Linked DNA regions of Homo sapiens: regions 1 and 3 are each linked to region 2. The links come from fine-mapping of genetic effects on gene expression. A gene starts in region 2. Each other region holds a variant in brackets. All regions are shown on one strand. Distances are between the middles of the regions.

Region 1 (2,760 bases), 56 kb after region 2:
ACACCACGCCCAGCTCATTTTTGTATTTTTAGTAGAGATGGGGTTTCACCATGTTGGCCAGGCTGGTCTTGACCTCCTGATGTCACGTGGTCTGCCCACCCTGTCCTCCCAAAGTGCTGGGATTACAGGCGTGAGCCACTTCGCCCAGCCTTTTTTTGTTTCGTTTTGTTTCTTAGAGACAGCATCTTGCTCTGTCCTTCAAGCTAAAGTGCAGTGGCTTGAACATGGCTACTGCAGCATCAACCTCCTGGGCTCAGGTGATCCTCCTGCCTCAGCCTCCTGAGTAGCTGGGATGACAGGTGTGCACCACCATGCTCAGCTAGTTCTTACAATTTTTGTAGAGACCAGGTTTCATTATGTTGCCCAGGCTGGAATTTTCGTATTTTTTGTCACAAAGCCTCGCTATGTTGCCCAGGCTGGTTTCAAACTCCTGGCTTCAAACAGTCCTCACACCTTAGCCTCCCTAAGGATCTTGTGCTGAGATTACAGGCATGATCCTCCATCTTTTTATATTGTGTAATTATAATGCAGAGTAGTTTGAGCTTGGTGATGAGAAAGCTTTCTTTTCGCCTTCCTGCCACTCATTGTTTGTATACTTTATTTTCAAAGGCCATTAACATGTCGACAGCCACTGAGCTGCTGTTTTTGTTTTATTGTTCCCTTGACCACACACCAACCAACCATGACTCCCAATTAATATTCTTAATGGAATCCAAGCCTCTAAGCCTCACAGTCCAGGCCCTCCACCAGCCTGCCTCACCCTATCCTCATTTCATCTCCCGCAACCTGGCTCCGGTGAGTGCTCTTCGTAGTCAGACTGGGCTGTTTATTTTCTGCAATGAACTTGTAAATCCCTGCCTTTGGCTCGTGCTTGAAATAGCTTCCTCTTTCTCATTACCGAGTCTACGTCCTGTGTTTAAGTGCAGCTCTGGAACCAGACGACATGTGTGTCATCCCAACTCTACTGCCAGCTATTTATGAGCCCTCAGGCAAGTTACTGAACCTTCCTGTGACTTCACTTCTTTACCTCTAAAACAGAGGTCATAATAGTATACCTACATCCTATGCTTATTTTGAAGCTTAAAGAGGTAATTTAGGGGCTGGGCGCGTGTAATCCCAGCACTTTGTGGGACTGAGGCGGGTGGATCACCTGAGGTCAGGAGTTCGAGATCAGCCTGGCCAACATGGCAAAACCCCGTCTCTACTAAAAATACAAAAATTAGCCAGGTGTGGTGGCAGGTGCCTGTAATCCCAGCTACTCGGGAAGCTGGGACAGGAGAATCACGTGAACCCGGGAGGCGAAGGTTGCAGTGAGCCAAGATCACGCCACTGCACTCCAGCCTTGGTGACAGAGGGAGACTCCATCTCAAAACAAAACCAAAGAAAACAAACAAACAAA[A/C]AAAAAACAAGTGTTGATAAGAATGTGGAGAAATTGGAACCTTCATAAATTGCTGGTGAGAATGTAAAATTGTGCAGTCACTTTGGAAGACAGTCTGGCAATTCCTAAATAATTTGAGCATAGAGTTACTATATCACCCAGCACTTCCATTCCTAGGTATATACCCAAGTGAATTGAAAGCATATGTCTCCACATAAATGTGTACATTAATGTTTATAGTGGCATTATTCATAATAGCCAGAAAGTGGAAACCACCTTAATGTTTATCACAGATGAATGGAGAAACACAATATAGTACTGAATATTCACATAATGGAATATTATTTAGCCACAAAAGGAATGTAGTACAATTGTCCTTCAGTATCCACAGGGGATTCGTTTCAGGACCCCTGAGGATATCAAAATCCATGGATGCTTGAGTTCCTTATATAAAATGATGTAGTATTTGCATAATTACTTTAAATCATCTGTAGATTATAATGTTGAATATGATGTAAATAGTTTTTTTTTTTTTTTTTTTGAGATGGAGTCTCGCTCTTTTGCCCAGGCTGGAGTGCAATGGCACCATCTCAGTTGACTGCAACCTCCGCCTCCCAGGTTCAAGCGATTCTCCTGCCTCAGCCTCCTGAGTAGCCGGGATTATAGGCATGGACCACCATGCCCAGCTAATTTTTATATTTTTAGTAGAGATGGGTTTCTTTTTTTTTTTTTTTTTTTTTTTTGAGACGGAGTCTCGCTGTCTCCCAGGCTGGAGTTCAGTGGCGCAATCTCGGCTCACTGCAAGCTCTGCCTCCCGGGTTCTAGCCATTCTCCTGCCTCAGCCTCCCAGGTAGCTGGGGCTACAGGGGCCCACCACCACGCCTGGCTAAGTTTTTGTATTTTTAGTAGAGACAGGGTTTCACCATGTTAGCCAGGATGGTCTCGATCTCCTGACCTTGTGATCTGCCCACCTTGGCCTCCCAAAGTGCTGGGATTACAGGCGTGAGCCACCGCGCCCAGCCCTGTGACGGGGTTTCACCATGTTGGTCAGGCTGGTCCTGAACTCCTGACCTTGTGATCCGCCTGCCTCAGCCTCCCAAAGTGCTGGGATTACAGGCATGAGCCACCACGCCCGACCAATAGTTGTATTTTTTTTGGAGACGGAGTCTCGCTTTGTCACCTAGGCTGGAGTGCAGTGGCGTGCAATTGGCTCATGCCAACCTCTGCCTCAGCCTCCCAAGTAGCTGGGATTACAGGCGCCCACCACCATGCCGGGCTAATGTTTTGTATTTTAGTAGAGACGGGGTTTCACCGTGTTGCCCAGGCTGGAGATAGTTGTTATATTTTTAGGAAATAATGACAAGAAAAAAAAGTCTATACAT
Region 2 (2,758 bases):
GGGAAAACCAGGCACTAACACACGGTGCACCCAACTGAATTTAAACTCGGGAACAGTGTAGGCAGTGTCAACAAAGCGCGGTGCTGGGTCCCGAGCGTCCAAAGGTCCCTGCCAGCTCCCAGACGCGGCCAAATCCACAGGATTCCAAAAGGTGACTTGGCCGGCACCGCAGAGCGGCAGGCGGCGCAGAGGGCAGAGTCCGACCGGTCCCCGCCCCGCGCTCGCTCCGCACGGCCACCGGCTCCTCCGCGGACGCTACCCCGGCGGGAGCCGAGCTGAGTCCGACTCCCCGTCTCCCGAAGAGGCCCGAAAGCCGCGTCACGTGCGGGGCCGAAACTTCGCGGCCGGGGCCGGGTGGCTGGCGGGTGGGAGGCAGGCACGGCGGTCGGGGGGCAGCCCGCGCGCCCGGTGACTCACCGGCCGCCTCCGAGTGCGGCTGCAAGCGAAGGGGCCGGCGCGCCAGGCGGGGTCCGTGCCCTTGGGGCCACCCCCGCGCCTGTTATTAATAACCCAGCGCCTGGAGGCGAAAGCCCCGGTGGGCGCAGCCGCAAAGCCCGCACGCGGAATAAATAACAATGTCATTAAATCGCGCCCGAGCGCCAGTTCGGCCAGAAAGCGGCGGGAGGGCGCCACCGGGAGCTGACTTTGTCTGGAGCCTGCACCCCGCCTCCCGCGCGTCCCCACAGCGTCCCCCGCGCCCCTGAGGGGGCTCAGCGCCGCCGCAGCCCTGGCCTTACCCGCCAGCTCGTCAGGCTCCAGCCCGCTGTCCGCGTCGATCCCGCACAGCACGAAGTAGTGCGCGAAGCGGCAGGCGGCCGGGGAGGAGCCCGAGCCCGGGCCGGGCGCCGCGCAGCTCCCGCTCATCCCGGCCGCGCTGCTCCAGGGGCCGCCGCCGCCGCCGCCCGGGAAGGCTTTCTGCGGAGGCTGCCACCACCGCTCCGGCTGTGGTCTGTGCGCCCGCCCTAGGGCGACACTGGCGCGCCCATGGCCGCGCAGCCGCCTCTCGCCGCCGCAGCCTGCCTCCTCGCTCGGCGCGGGGGAAGCGGCCGCGGGCTCGCGCGCGGCGGGTCCGGAGCCCGGCCGGGTGGGGGAGGGGCGCGGGGGGAGTGTCGGCCTGAGAGGCCCTCGCAGCCGCAGCTGCGCTCGCGAGCTGAGAGCCGCCGCGTCTGGCGCCCGCGGGTCAGCTGAGCGGCGCTCGGGCTGTGGGAGCGCGGGGCGGGCGGGGGCGCCGGGGCTCGGCGCGTGCGACGGAGAGGGGTGGGGGGCGCGCTCGCGAGGGACGGAGGCGCGCGCTTCTACCGTGCGCGCGCGCCTAGCGGGTTCGGAGGCCAAGCCTGGCGTGGGGCCGCATTCGTGCCCACTGGCCCCGGCTGCGGCATCGAGGGCGACCCTGCACACACCCCTCCTCGCCCTGGCCAGCCGATAAGAGGGCTAGCCTCAGTGTGGGGGTCTGTCTTCTAAAGGGGTTGTCACCCATCCTTATTTCTTTTAATGCAGCTTTGGGGAAGGTGAACAGCCGCTCTGAGATCATTTCGCATAACGGTCTGAACCATCGTCTTTTAAACTGTGACCTGTGTGGGGGTGCCTGTCTCACTTTAAGGTCCTCCCTTCCCCCAGCCGTCACCCCATTTACAGGCCATCCTTAGTGACTTAGTGACAAGTCAACCGTGAGGGGGAAAAAACACAACTCAATACCCACAAAGCGTTGAGACTTCTAGAAGGAGTGCAGTCACCAACCCCCGCCTTCTGTCATTTATCCTGACATTTTCCAGGTCAGTGTAAATAGCCAAGGCGCTCCAGTTCCGCAGCCCTGTACCCATCCGATGTTATCGGCTCTCCCCGCAAGTAACAATCGGAGGCTAAAGCAACAGGAATTAGACCATGAACTCTGCTCCTCCCAAAGGCACGGCTTTCTTGCCCTGCTCAGCTGTCTTTTGCCTTCTCGGAAGGAACTCGACAACCAGTTCTTTTTCCTTTGAAAGAAAACTGGCTGGGCTCAGTGGCTCACACCTGTAATTTACTCAACACTTTGGGAAGCCCAGGTAGGAAGATCACATGAGACCAGGAGTTCAAGACCAGCCTGGGCAATAGAGGGAGACTCTGTCTCCATCTAAGTAAAAAAATAACATTTATTTATTTAAAAAATAATTTTTTAAGAGACAGGGTCTCACTGTATTGACCAGGCTGCTCTCAAACTCCTGGGTTCAAGTGATCCTCCCGCCTTGGCCCCCAAATGTGCTAGGATTACAGGCATAATAAGCCACTGTGCCCGGCCATGTAAGTAAAAATAAAACTTAAAAGATAGAAAACTGAATGCAATTCATCTCCACATGGCAACCCCTTCCACACCACTCCCTGCTTTCTTCTTTGGGGATTTGGGGCATCTACCACTAGACATACAAGCAAACCTTCCAGAGAGGTTGCCTGAGAGAACCTCGATTATTTGACTGAATAATGTTCTTCCTAGAAGATACATGTGCGTGCATACCATCATTTAATGTAGCTTGTATCTTCACTTTCTTTCTTCAATTTTGAAATGAAAGAGGCTGGCCATGGTGGCTCAGGCCTGTAATCCCAGCACTTTGAGAGGCCAAGGCAGGAGGAGCATTTGAGTCCAGGAATTCAAGACCAACCTGGGCAAAATAGTGAGAGACCCTGTCTCTATAAAAATAAAATGAGGCCGGGTGCAGTGGCTCAAGCCTGTAATCCCAGTCCTTTCGGAGGCCAAGGCGAGAGGCTCACTTGAGGTCAGGAGTTT
Region 3 (2,760 bases), 120 kb before region 2:
GAAAAACACTCTAATGGGAGAGGACAGTGCCCAAAAGAGATCCCTATTGAAAAAGAAATGGTTTATACTGGATCTTGTTACCAGAGGAATGCAAGGAAGAGATTCTCACATATAGGGAGCCTCTTTTTCCCTTGGACTGACTTTGGAACTGTAGGAGAACCTTCTGCATTTAATTGTCACTTGGACAATGCCCTATAAATACCTCTCAGTTGACCAGCAAAGTACTGTTTGGTTTATGGATGGCAGTTCCAAGGAGAACTATGATGTCCACTTGAGCATGCCTAGCAATTTGTGATGAGAAAGCTCCCAACTTTTTCAAGAAAACTTTAAGTAGCTTCCACCTTCTGACAAGGTTAATTCACATACAACTCAAAGAGGAATGAAACGAACAGAGGGATGGCAGACAAGCACTGCAAAGGCACACAGGCATGCAGTGTGGTGTGGGTAGTGGTTTATTTCCACTATGAAGAACCAAAGGAGGTAAGCAAGGCCCAAAAATGTTTCTTAGACTTCAATTATTGGTATCAAAAGTTAGACAATGGTGTTTAAATTCCCCTTTTATTCTTCCACTAGTTCTTTGAAAAAAGAATCATACTCTGATTTTCATACTGTGCTGCTCCAGGTATTTCCCAGTTGCAGAACAAAGTGCCCATTTCTGATCTGGGGTCCTAGAAAAGAGCCTTCACATCCTGGGTACATTTTCTCTACTTAGAATTTCTAGCTAGTTACCACTGCAAAGTGACAGTGATATATGCATTTCCTAAATAACAGATTGAATTGGTTTAAATGGGCTGTGGATCAGAATTTCAAATCAGTCTAGAAGGACATTTTCATCACTGAAATCCACCTACTTTGATTCACTTTGGGTTTTCATGGTAACTCTTCAGCACACGCAATGTTTTTAAATTTATGGCATAGCTTTATCAGTGAGTAAGAAATGAAGTATCACATGTTATTAAAACCCCCTTAACACAGTTAAGAAGAGTAAAGGAGGGCACCCAAGTACAAATCAACATAAGGACACCTATTTCATTCATTTAACTGAAATATTTTTCTCTAATAGAAGAGACATTGTCAATATTAAAATCTAGATTTACACAGCGCTTTCATTTTATACTCTACAATTACTTCGCATGACACCTTTACAATAGACCCACAGAATGAGTTAATCATTTAAAAATAAATATTGAGACAGATAAGGAGAGGTTAAGTGCAGTGCCCAATACAGTTAACACAGTGGTTAAGCATCTGAAAAAAGACTGATGAAACCCAATTCTTAGTAGTACTACATTACTTACTAGCTGTATCATCTTGGGCAGATTACTTAGTTTCCCCAAGCCTCAATCTCCTCCTCAACAAAAAATGCACAACAGCACTAAC[T/C]CACTGCTGTTGAGAGGATTAAATGTAGGGAAAAGATCCAAAATATACAATGCCTTTTTGTAGCACAATTCCTAACATAGAGTGATTTTAGTGAATGGTTATAAATTTACTGTATGGCAATTTTTTGGGGTATGTCACTTTAAATTTTTTAAAAATCTAGCTCTATAATCTCAGGATTCACTCTGTTGTTCTCGGCATACAGATTACAAAAAAATAGAGTATAAAACCATATCCATAAATGCTTATTCTTCTTCATTTGAAACTGAAATAAATTGGTAGATATTAATGAGCTAAAACTCCTGAACAGACTCCACAAACCAAACAGGACAAGCTAAGCAGTGGCTCACACCTGTAAACCCTACACTTTGGGAAGCTGAGGCAGGACGATCGCTTGAGCCCAGGAGTTTCAAACCAGCCTGGGCAGTGTAGTGAGACTTCATCTCCACTAAAAATAAAAAACATTAGTCAGGTATGGTAATGCATGCCTGTAGTCCCAGCTACTCAGGAGGCTGAGGGGTGAAGGTTGCTTGAGCCCTGGAGTTTGAGGTTGCAGTGAGCTACGATCATGTCACTGCATTCCAGCCTGGGCACCAGAGTGACACCCTGTCTCAAAACAAACAAACAAAAAAAGAGCAGAAATAGGAGAGCTCAGGACAGACCACAAACGGTGAGACATAACCTGCTACTTAAAAGAGGAGGTGTGGGCCGGGTGCGGTGGCTTACACCTGTAATCCCAGCACTTTGGGAGGCCAAGGCAGGCAGATCACCTAGGGTCAGGAGTTCGAGACCAGCCTAGCCAGCATGGCAAAACCTCATCTCTACTAAAAATACAAAGAAATTAGCCAGGCATGGTGGTGCGCGCCTGTAGTCCCAGGGACTTGGGAGGCTGAGGCACGAGAATCGCTTGAACCCAGGAGGTGGAGGTTGCAATATGCTGAGATTGCGCCACTGCACTCCAGCCTGGGTGACAGAGCAAGACTCCGTCTCAATAAAAAAAAATAAAAATAAAAAATAAAAGAGGAAGTGTGATAATGGAAGCTTTTGGAGTTTTTTTTTGCCTTCTAAAAAAAGCATGGTATACAATATAAAAGAACATTTATTAGGTTCTCAACTCTGGAATAAACTCTTGACTGTATCATTTAAAAAGGTTTTATGTTAAATGTAGTAATATGTTGAACCTTCACAACTTAGAGATAAGTGTAATTTATAGAAGATTATATGGGACTAATAAAACTAGTAATTATTATAATAGCATCAGCTATCATTTAGTCAGTGTCAATTATACCCTAAGTATTTTATACACGTTTTCTTATTTAATTGTCATAATAGATCAGTGAGAAAGGAGAAAAAAAAAAAACCCAAACTATTATCCCTATAGAG

What was found. PIP is the estimated chance that this variant, and not a neighbour inherited with it, causes the effect. A credible set is the group of variants that fine-mapping cannot tell apart.
Region 1: its variant is the best candidate, but not a certain one, in a credible set for the expression of DENND5B in whole blood (INTERVAL, PIP 0.62).
Region 3: its variant is the best candidate, but not a certain one, in a credible set for the expression of DENND5B in whole blood (TOPMed, PIP 0.73).

What each region holds. Positions count from the first base shown.
Region 1 is chr12:31,646,461-31,649,220 of GRCh38, forward strand. The region is part of intron 1 of LOC124902913 (a long non-coding RNA gene); the gene reads right to left. It also overlaps a transcript of ETFBKMT not described here. Among named protein-coding and RNA genes, the nearest start is that of ETFBKMT, 12 kb to the right of the region's middle. The variant A/C (reference allele first, on the strand shown) is at 1,400.
Region 2 is chr12:31,589,969-31,592,726 of GRCh38, forward strand. DENND5B (DENN domain containing 5B) reads right to left here and starts at 1,168. Exons shown (of 21, transcript NM_144973.4): 1 at 738-1,168. The coding sequence starts at 864. It overlaps DENND5B-AS1 (DENND5B antisense RNA 1), which reads left to right. Exons shown (of 3, transcript NR_046909.1): 1 at 1-151. RefSeq lists silencers at 199-538, 689-958, 1,029-1,318 and an enhancer at 1,749-1,978.
Region 3 is chr12:31,473,759-31,476,518 of GRCh38, forward strand. The region is part of intron 3 of DENND5B (DENN domain containing 5B); the gene reads right to left. Among named protein-coding and RNA genes, the nearest start is that of LINC02387, 110 kb to the left of the region's middle. The variant T/C (reference allele first, on the strand shown) is at 1,381.